Homo sapiens: one gene and its partner. The protein of the gene in region 1 interacts with the protein of each later gene in a pairwise test. Each region holds a gene or a part of one and is shown on either strand. Other genes may lie near its edges. The genes, in order: ELOVL3 and MUC20.

Region 1 (4,493 bases):
TTTTTTGTATTTTTTAGTAGAGACGGGGTTTGACGGTGTTAGCCAGGATGGTCTCGATCTCCTGACCTCATGATCTGCCCGCCTCGGCCTCCCAAGGTGCTGGGATTACAGGCGTGAACCACCGTGCCCGGCCGAACCACTGAAGGTTTTTAAGCAGGAAAGCAGAGCTGTTTTCTGGATGAGCAAACAGAAAGTAGTGGTTTTCCAAGTACAGTCTGAGACAACCTATAGGACCAGAATCTCTGCAGTTGAGGCTCAGGAATCTGGTAATCAGCCAGGTATAGGAACTCTTTTCTGATTGCAATGCAGTGAAGAGCAGAAGCACTGTATTAGAGAAAGAGGCAGTGCAACCAGGTAACGTGACCAGGTGAGAAGTGATGAGGTACAGAGACAAAGAGATGCACTTTTGAGTCACTTAGATGGCACTGATAGGACTTCCACTACACCCTCGCATAGACAGTGGCTGAGGTTCAGGAAATAGAGCTGGGGTTCCTACTTGGATCCTCTGGCTCTAGAGCTTTACTGCACATAGCCATTTATACCCACATCTTGATTTTAATTATTTTATATCTATGTTTCTTAGCACTTTTTGCAAATTTCCACCTTATCTCAAACTGCCCTCAAGCCTTGTATTTCTCCTTCGCTTTCATAAAACCTAGGAAAGAAATAAGGGACAGCCAAGTAAAACTTTTAAAAGTTTTAGAACATTTATTTCTTTGGGGCTGGTTACACAGGCGAGAAAGAAGTAGATTTGGTTAGGGAGAGAAAACAACAGGCCTTGGGGAGATACACTGGCTCTCCCCCTCCCTAAACCCTAAGAGGCCTCCAGGAAACCTGAAGACAATAATTCCAGAAGCCCAGAGGGTGACCCCATTTCCTCTCTCCATGGTTATTACTGTCAGTCTGGAGCAGTTCAGGAATTCAGGAAACTATAAAGAAACCACAACAGCCTCAACAACCCAAACATCAACATCAACAACCTCAACAATAAAACTCCTTAAAATTCATCTCCTTCCACCCACTCACAACCGCAGACTCGAAGCTAGGAGGTGGAAGGGACTACAGAAGCTCTGCGTTGCCCAGGTTAGTATTTGCTCATCACAGGCCTGGGTTTCCCAGGATCTCAGGGAGCCTGGAAACTGACGCCTCCATTTCTGGGTGGGAGCACCAAAGCCTAAGGACACCTTTCCTCTCTCTTCACTGCTAAGCAGGTCAAGATTAAAGCAAACCGAGGCAAAGGCCACGGTTGACAGTTCCAAGGGAACCCGCAAGGCCGCACAGGATGGGGTGGACGTTTTACGGGAGAAAAGGCTGGGGAAGTGGGCGGGCGATGGCCTACGACGGGACTTGGGGCGGGGTGTGCGAAACGCCTGGCAGGCGGGCCCTTGAGTATGACCAATCAGAATGCGGACTGCGTCCCAGGGGCGGAGCAGAGGCGTATCTTGGTCGAGATTGGATAGCGGCGGGGCGCAGGAAAGAGGTCGCGCCAGCCCGGGCAGGCAGCTTTGCAAGTCCGCGTTATATATCGCAGTGGCTGCGCCCGGGATAGCTGGCTGCGCCGCCGCGCACATGCCTAGGTTCGACGCCCTCCTCCCTTTGCCCAGGAGTTCCTTCTGTCCCGGCTCTGTTCCGTCTCGCCCCGAGGTTCACGCCATCCTCGGAGCCCCAGCCTTTCACCCAGCGCCTCCAAGCTTTGGACCTTGACTTCTGCAAAACTAGATGGTCACAGCCATGAATGTCTCACATGAAGTAAATCAGCTGTTCCAGCCCTATAACTTCGAGCTGTCCAAGGACATGAGGCCCTTTTTCGAGGAGTATTGGTGAGACTTTGGGAGAGGGAAAGGCCATGCCAGGGCCCCGGGGCCGGGGCGCGAGGGGGTGGCATTGAATGCCCACAATGATTTTCTTACAGAGCAGAGTTATGGGACTCCCTTGTACTGGCTTCACACTACCTTTGTCCGAGGTGCAGGTAGTATGTGGCACCTCAAAGAGATTAGAGCTGAAAGCAAGCAAGCAGAAATAAGAGGATGAGGGAGAACGTGGAAATATACAGAAGTCAAAGAGAGCGTGTAGTGAGAAGGGTCTTGGAGGCGTGAGGTTGATCTGAAGCCTTACTAGATGACTTCCCCGTCCTTTGTGGCTGTGTGTGCGCGCGTGTGTGCACAGTGCAGGGCCCGGGGGACAGCCTGCCCTTTACAATTATCCCATCGTTCCCCAGGTGCTCCACCGTTCCTGCTGTGGAGAAGGAGGCGAAGTCAGAGAGCTCTTCCAAGCTTTCCCCAGGAAGAGCTCTCTGGCTTTGCCTTAAAGCTCCCCAGAGGTTTTGGAGGCTGACTTTATGCTCCAACCAATTTGCCATACCCCAGCCAGGGAGAAGCTATTGCCACATTCTTCTTACGCCACAGCCCTGGTATGCTTCTAGGAGCCCCAACCAGGGAGAAGCTATTGCCACACTTCTTACACCACAGCCCTGGGCTGCTTCTAGGCGCGGGCCAGACAGCCGTCACCCACCTCTAACCCCACTGAGAGAGCAATAATCACAGAAACCTTGGACATAGCTCCTGCCCTGTGCTAGATACTTTGTATACGTTAATACCCCCAGGAGAGATGTAGTATTCGCGCTCTACAAATGAGGAAGCCAAGGCTCAGAGAATTAAGTTGGTTTTTCCAATGTCACATAGCTAGTAAGTGGCAGAACTGGGACTCCAACCCAGAGCACTCACCTGGAGAGATGAGTGGGCATTTCTCTAATCAGCACCCACCCATGAGCCCATCCCTCTGCCTTCTGCTTGCCAGGGCAACCTCATTCCCCATAGCCCTGATCTACCTGGTTCTCATCGCTGTGGGGCAGAACTACATGAAGGAACGCAAGGGCTTCAACCTGCAAGGGCCTCTCATCCTCTGGTCCTTCTGCCTTGCAATCTTCAGGTAAGACCCCATCCCACTCCCTGCCTCTTCTCTAGATCTTAGACCACCATTCTATCCCTTGAAGCTTTCCCGATTGCATCAACCTCCATCCTGTCCCCAAGTTGCCTTGTAACACTCTCCCCATCTCATTCTCGGCTTTAGTTCCCCTCCCAGCCTTCACCCTCTTCTGTTATATTATCCTGTTTTCCTTCTCTTTTAGACCCCTACCTGGTGGTCTCTGCTTTGTCCCTCTTGCCTTCGTAGAGTCTGTACTCGCAACTAATTTCTCCAGCCTCTAATAGTGTCACCTCCTAACACCCTCTCTCAAGACCCTCCAATAACTTCCCCATATTTTCTCCCCCAAACTCCTTCAGTCTTCCCCTATCCCTCTACACATCTCCTCCCAGGCTCCTAACCCCTCCCAAGAACCCCATTCCTTAACTCAACTTTCAGTCCCATCCCCCTGCATTCCCTGATCTTTCTCCAGCCCTCGTCTCCTCTAGACTACTGATTGGATCTACCAGATTGGCTTCAGGATCTCAGGAGCTTTGACCCACCCCCTGTGGACAGGTGGGGAGGTGGTAGAGCTTGGAACACAGTAACCTGGCCAAGCCGGGGGAAGGGTGGATTATTGGTGCCTGGGGATGACACTTACACCATCTTCCTTTGTCCCATTTCAGTATCCTGGGGGCAGTGAGGATGTGGGGCATTATGGGGACTGTGCTACTTACCGGGGGCCTAAAGCAAACCGTGTGCTTCATCAACTTCATCGATAATTCCACAGTCAAATTCTGGTCCTGGGTCTTTCTTCTCAGCAAGGTCATAGAACTCGGTGAGTGGCAAAGCTTTGTCTTTCTGGTGCCTTGTGAACTGCATCCTTCCTCAGGGCCCTCCCTTCACCCATCCCATGGAGGGTCTCTTTCCTACCCTTGGGTCCCAATAATACCTCTCACCCAAGCCCCTCTACAGATTCTCTGCCACAAAGACCCCCTTCCCTCCCCTGAGAATTTCTCCCGTGTCCCTACATCCAGTGCAGAGGGTGGTCCCAGCACTGGGTGGTATGCCAACTATGACTCTCCATCTCCCAGGAGACACAGCCTTCATCATCCTGCGTAAGCGGCCACTCATCTTTATTCACTGGTACCACCACAGCACAGTGCTCGTGTACACAAGCTTTGGATACAAGAACAAAGTGCCTGCAGGAGGCTGGTTCGTCACCATGAACTTTGGTGTTCATGCCATCATGTACACCTACTACACTCTGAAGGCTGCCAACGTGAAGCCCCCCAAGATGCTGCCCATGCTCATCACCAGCCTGCAGATCTTGCAGATGTTTGTAGGAGCCATCGTCAGCATCCTCACGTACATCTGGAGGCAGGATCAGGGATGCCACACCACGATGGAACACTTATTCTGGTCCTTCATCTTGTATATGACCTATTTCATCCTCTTTGCCCACTTCTTCTGCCAGACCTACATCAGGCCCAAGGTCAAAGCCAAGACCAAGAGCCAGTGAAGGTTTGGAGAGAACAATGAAGCTCCAGGCTCTCTCTTCTCCAGGGCACCAAGAGGCTGGGCTTAGTTTT
Region 2 (4,503 bases), on another chromosome or scaffold:
TTATTTTTCTATTAAGATAAAAAACACTGTTTGGATCAGATAGTTTTTCTGTTTGTAAACTGGTGAATTTGTATTTATTTCATGGCTAAATTTCTTTTTTTCTTTTCTTTCTCTTTTTTTTTTTTCTTTTTTTTTTTTTGAGGCAGAGTTTCACTCTTGTTGCCCAGGCTGGAGTGCAATGGCGTGATCTTGGGTCACCACAGTCTCCTCTTCCCTGGTTCAAGTGATTCTCTTGCCTCAGCCTCCCGAGTAGCTGGGATTACAGGCATGCACCACCATGCCTGGCTAATTTTTTGTATTTTTAGTAGAGATGGGGTTTCTCCATGTTCGTCAGGCTGGTCTCCAACTCCTGACCTCAGGTGATCTGCCCGCCTCGGCCTCCCAAGGTGCTGGGATTACAGGCGTGAGTCACCGCGCCCAGCTTTCATGGCTAAATTTCTGAAGTAAAAGCTATAGGATCTTTGTGTGTGTGTATATATTTAAAAGGCCTTTATAATTTCTATAATTTTATGTTTAATTGGCAATTAAATCTGTTTTAATTTCCCTCCAGCACACCAGACTTTTTCTCTCCATACGTTATGATGTAAATTTTGCTATTCGATTTTCACCTCAGTTTCCTTAAAATGCAAATTCAAGGCTATTTAGCTGACAACCGCTTAGAGTAGTAAAACAGGTTATCAAGAATTCGAAGGTGTGGCTGGGCACGGTGGCTCACGTCTGTAATCCTAGCATTTGGGAGGCTGAGCCGCAAAGATCTCTTGAGGTCAGGAGTTCAAAACCATCTTGGCCAACATGTTGAAACCCCGTCTCTACTAAAAATACAAAAAAAATTAGCCAGATGTGGTGGCAGGTGCCTATAATCCCAGCTACTCAGGAAGCTGAGGCAGGAGAATCACTTGAAGCCAGGAGGCAGAGTTTGCAGTGAGTCGAGATCAAGCCATTGCACTCCAGCCTGGGCAACAGAGTGAGACTCTGTCTCAAAAAAAAAAAAAAAAAAAGTAAAAAAGAATTTGAAGGTGTAAGAAAAAAGCTCTTTATGAATCTATAAGATGAACTTCTTTCAGCATACCTAATACATCTGTGTATTTATGTGTTGTTGTGTACACAGTGTTTTGCTACTGAAAATATATAAAAGAGCTCTAATTAATTGGCTTAAGAAAATAAAAGCACTTGGCTGGGTGCAGTGGCTCATGCCTGTACTCCCAGCACTTTGGGAGGCTGAGGTAGGTAGATCACCTGAGGTCAGGAGTTTGAGACTAGCCTGGCCAACATGGTGAAACCCCATCTCTACTAAAAATACAAAAATTAGCCCGACGTGGTGGTGCGCGCCTATAATCCCAGCTACTCCAGAGGCTGAGGCAGGAGAATTGTTGGATCCCGGGAGGAAGAGGTTTCATTGAGCTGAGATCTCATTACTGTACACTCCAGCCTGGGTGACAGAGCAAGACTCCATCTCAAAAAAAAAAAAAGAAGCTAGTGATTCCATATCTTCAAATCAAATTTCAGTGGAGTGTTTACCGGGCAAGGAAGGCAGGGGGGTCAGCTTGCTGACAGCCTCAACCTGCCAGCCCTCAGCCTGCACATTTGTGATCACCTGGTCACACACCTGGGCAGGAGGCTGCCCCTCCTCCCTGGTTTGAGGAAGCAGGAAAAGGTACCCGCGAGAGACAGCCAGCAGTTCTGTGGAGCAGCGGTGGCCGGCTAGGATGGGCTGTCTCTGGGGTCTGGCTCTGCCCCTTTTCTTCTTCTGCTGGGAGGTTGGGGTCTCTGGGAGCTCTGCAGGTAAGGAGGCCTAGAAGGGCCTGGTGGGCCTCTCCCCTAGTAGGGCTCTGGGAGTGAATTTCAGTATGAGCCACCCTTCATGGGCAAGGGCAGGCTCTCTCGGGTTGATTATAATGAACCACAGTGCTACTTGTGAAGTGCTATTATTGTTGATAAAGAGTGTGCAAATGACAGTGTGAGTGTAAGCGTGCATGGCGCTGCAGTACACACTAATCAACCATGACGATGTGTGTGAGTGTAAGCGTGCCTGGCGCTGCAGTACACGCTAATCAACCATGACGCTGCCATCGTAAGGGATGGCTGAGAGTTTGTCTTTATGAACGTGGGACAGTAAGTGGGGCACGGAGCGGGGGTGCAGGGAGGTGCCAGCTGGTGATCATTGTGCAGAAAGCTGAAGAATGTGGCTTAACAAGATTCTGACTCCTCCCAGTTTATTACCTAGCATGGATTTCCTTCAAAATACAGATTTCGTGTGAAAAGTCCAACTGCCACAAACTGCTTGGGAAGGGTGGATGCTGACAGGCAGGGCTTTTGTGAAAGACGGGAATGAACCCTGACCTGTCGCTAATAGGAGTTGTGCCAAACTCATCACATACATTAAAAAATAGAAAAGGATTTATTTTTTTTTTAGTTCTATGCTCCCTCTAAACCTCGAGTGGAGAGGCCGGGCGTGGTGGCTCACACCTGTAATCCCAGCATTTTGGGAGGCTGAGGTGGGTGGATCACCTGAGGTCAGGAGTTCGAGACCAGCCTGACCAACATGGAGAAACCCCGTCTCTACTAAAAATACAAAATTAGCCGGGGGTGGTAGCAGGTGCCTGTAATCCCAGCTACTCGGGAGGCTGAGGCAGGAGAATTGCTTGAACCTGGGAGGTGGAGTTTGCAGTGAGCTGAGATCGCACCCTTGCGCTCTGGCCTGGGCAACAAAAGTGAAACTATGTTTCAAAAAAAAAAAAGCTGCAGTGGAGAGTCTGGAGTTCCCATCCCCACCACTCACAGCCTCCCCCATCATCAGCGTCCCCCACCAGAGTGGCACATTTGATAGGACTGAGGAACCTACTTTGATGCATCATTATCATACATTGTATTTTTAATCCTCACAACGGCCCTGCAAGATCGGCCCTGTTTTTACCACCCCCCACCTCCACTGCTTTAAGGGTGAGGCCACTGTGCTTCTGGGCATCCAGTAACAACTCCTCGGAGCCAGAATCTGACTCCTCACAGGCCTGAGCACTGCACCCCGTGGCCTCCTGCCTGTGCTCACCGTGGCCTGGTCTGCGCTGCACGTGTCCCGTTAGCTCCACCTTACAGGTGCGGAAATGCAGGCTTGGAGCTGAGAGACTTGGCCAGGGTCACAGGGCAGAGAGCAGATTCTCCAACTCAGGGTCCCAAGTCCACACGCTTTCCTCTCCACCAGATTTGAAGATTGTACCAGGAGAGCCGCAGTGTTCCAGAGCTACTGAGGGGCTGGGCTGGGATTTGCTGTATTCGAGAAGACCCCCTTGGACCCGAGAGGCTGTGGGCTTGGGGAGCATGAGGAGGTTTCACAGCAGAAAGGACACCCCGGGGCTCCTGGATAAGCCAGAAAATGTGCCAGGGGAAGTCGGGCTCCAAGGGCACCACTCTGGGCTTCCAGCTGTGTGGGCTGGACCAAGAAGGCTCAAAGAAATGATCTCAGGCTTGAAGTGGGGAGAAGAAACTGTATTATGAAGGCAGACGAACAGTTCCTGCAAAAGTGAGATTTGTGTGTGCAGCTGGGCCGCACTGGACCAGGGATGAGAGTGGGTGCCCGGGACTCGCCTATACTGCCTGGGGGTGCAGCCCGCACTCCTCACTATAGTCAGATCAACTATGCGTGCTTTCCAGTGGCCTGGGAGAGGACTCCATAGGGAGGGATGCTTACCTTGTGGGCTTTGGAATATAAGCCCTTTCACCTTCTCCGCTGGTCCTCATCACGTTGGCAAGGCAGGTATTGTGACCCTGTTTTCTCAGGTGAGGACATGGAGGCTGGGAGGGGTCTAGAGACTGGCCTGGCTAGTAGGAGGCTGAGTCAGGATTTGAACCAGCAGATCATCTGACCCCGGAGCCAGTCGTGGGCGGCACAGCGGGAGCTGCAACCGAGGCTCTTGACTCCTGCGTCGTCATTCCCTGAGGTCCACAGGACAACCAGTTGGGGACCTGGGGCCCCATCCTGATGCCCTGGGGAGAGGTGCTAGGCCCCTTTTGGGTCTATGGGCTACTTTTGGGCCAGTGGAGCTGGGTAAAGACCATCTCAAACCCTGTGCCAGGGGAGGTCAGACTCCAAGAGCGCCACCTTTGGGCTTCCAGCTGTGTAGGCTGGACCAAGAAGGCTCAGAGAATTAGGGGGTTCGTATTTGATCCTTTTCCTTCCAAGACTGGGATTACCAGATAAAACACAGGGCATCCAGTTACATTTGAATTTCAGGTAACAATTTTTTTTAAGTGTAAGTATGTAGCCAATATTGCATGAGAAATACTCATGCTAAAAAGTTATTCGTCGTTTATCTGAAATGCAAGTTCAAATTTAACCGAGTACCCTGTATTTTTATTTGCTAAATCTAGAAACCCTCTCCAAGAGGCTCCTTGGCCCACTCACAGGGAGAGCCCGATCTCCCTCTAGACAGGGGAGGCCCCCTTTCTCAGGCCAGAAAAGATCTTGTAGTAAACTACTCAAGAGGCTGAGGCAGGAGGATCGCTTGA

Evidence for each region.
Region 2: the proteins of ELOVL3 (region 1) and MUC20 interact in a two-hybrid assay, tested with the Homo sapiens proteins (one large-scale study listed by BioGRID and IntAct).

Annotation. Positions count from the first base shown.
Region 1 is NC_000010.11:102,224,830-102,229,322, forward strand, and holds the start of ELOVL3 (very long chain fatty acid elongase 3), read left to right. Parts: upstream 1-1,469; 5' UTR 1,470-1,719; coding exon 1,720-1,820; intron 1,821-2,796; coding exon 2,797-2,928; intron 2,929-3,587; coding exon 3,588-3,739; intron 3,740-3,995; coding exon 3,996-4,423; 3' UTR 4,424-4,493. UniProt on the Homo sapiens protein: Catalyzes the first and rate-limiting reaction of the four reactions that constitute the long-chain fatty acids elongation cycle.
Region 2 is NC_000003.12:195,719,302-195,723,804, forward strand, and holds the start of MUC20 (mucin-20 isoform a precursor), read left to right. Parts: upstream 1-1,676; 5' UTR 1,677-1,706; coding exon 1,707-1,782; intron 1,783-4,503. UniProt on the Homo sapiens protein: May regulate MET signaling cascade. Seems to decrease hepatocyte growth factor (HGF)-induced transient MAPK activation. Blocks GRB2 recruitment to MET thus suppressing the GRB2-RAS pathway. Inhibits HGF-induced proliferation of MMP1 and MMP9 expression.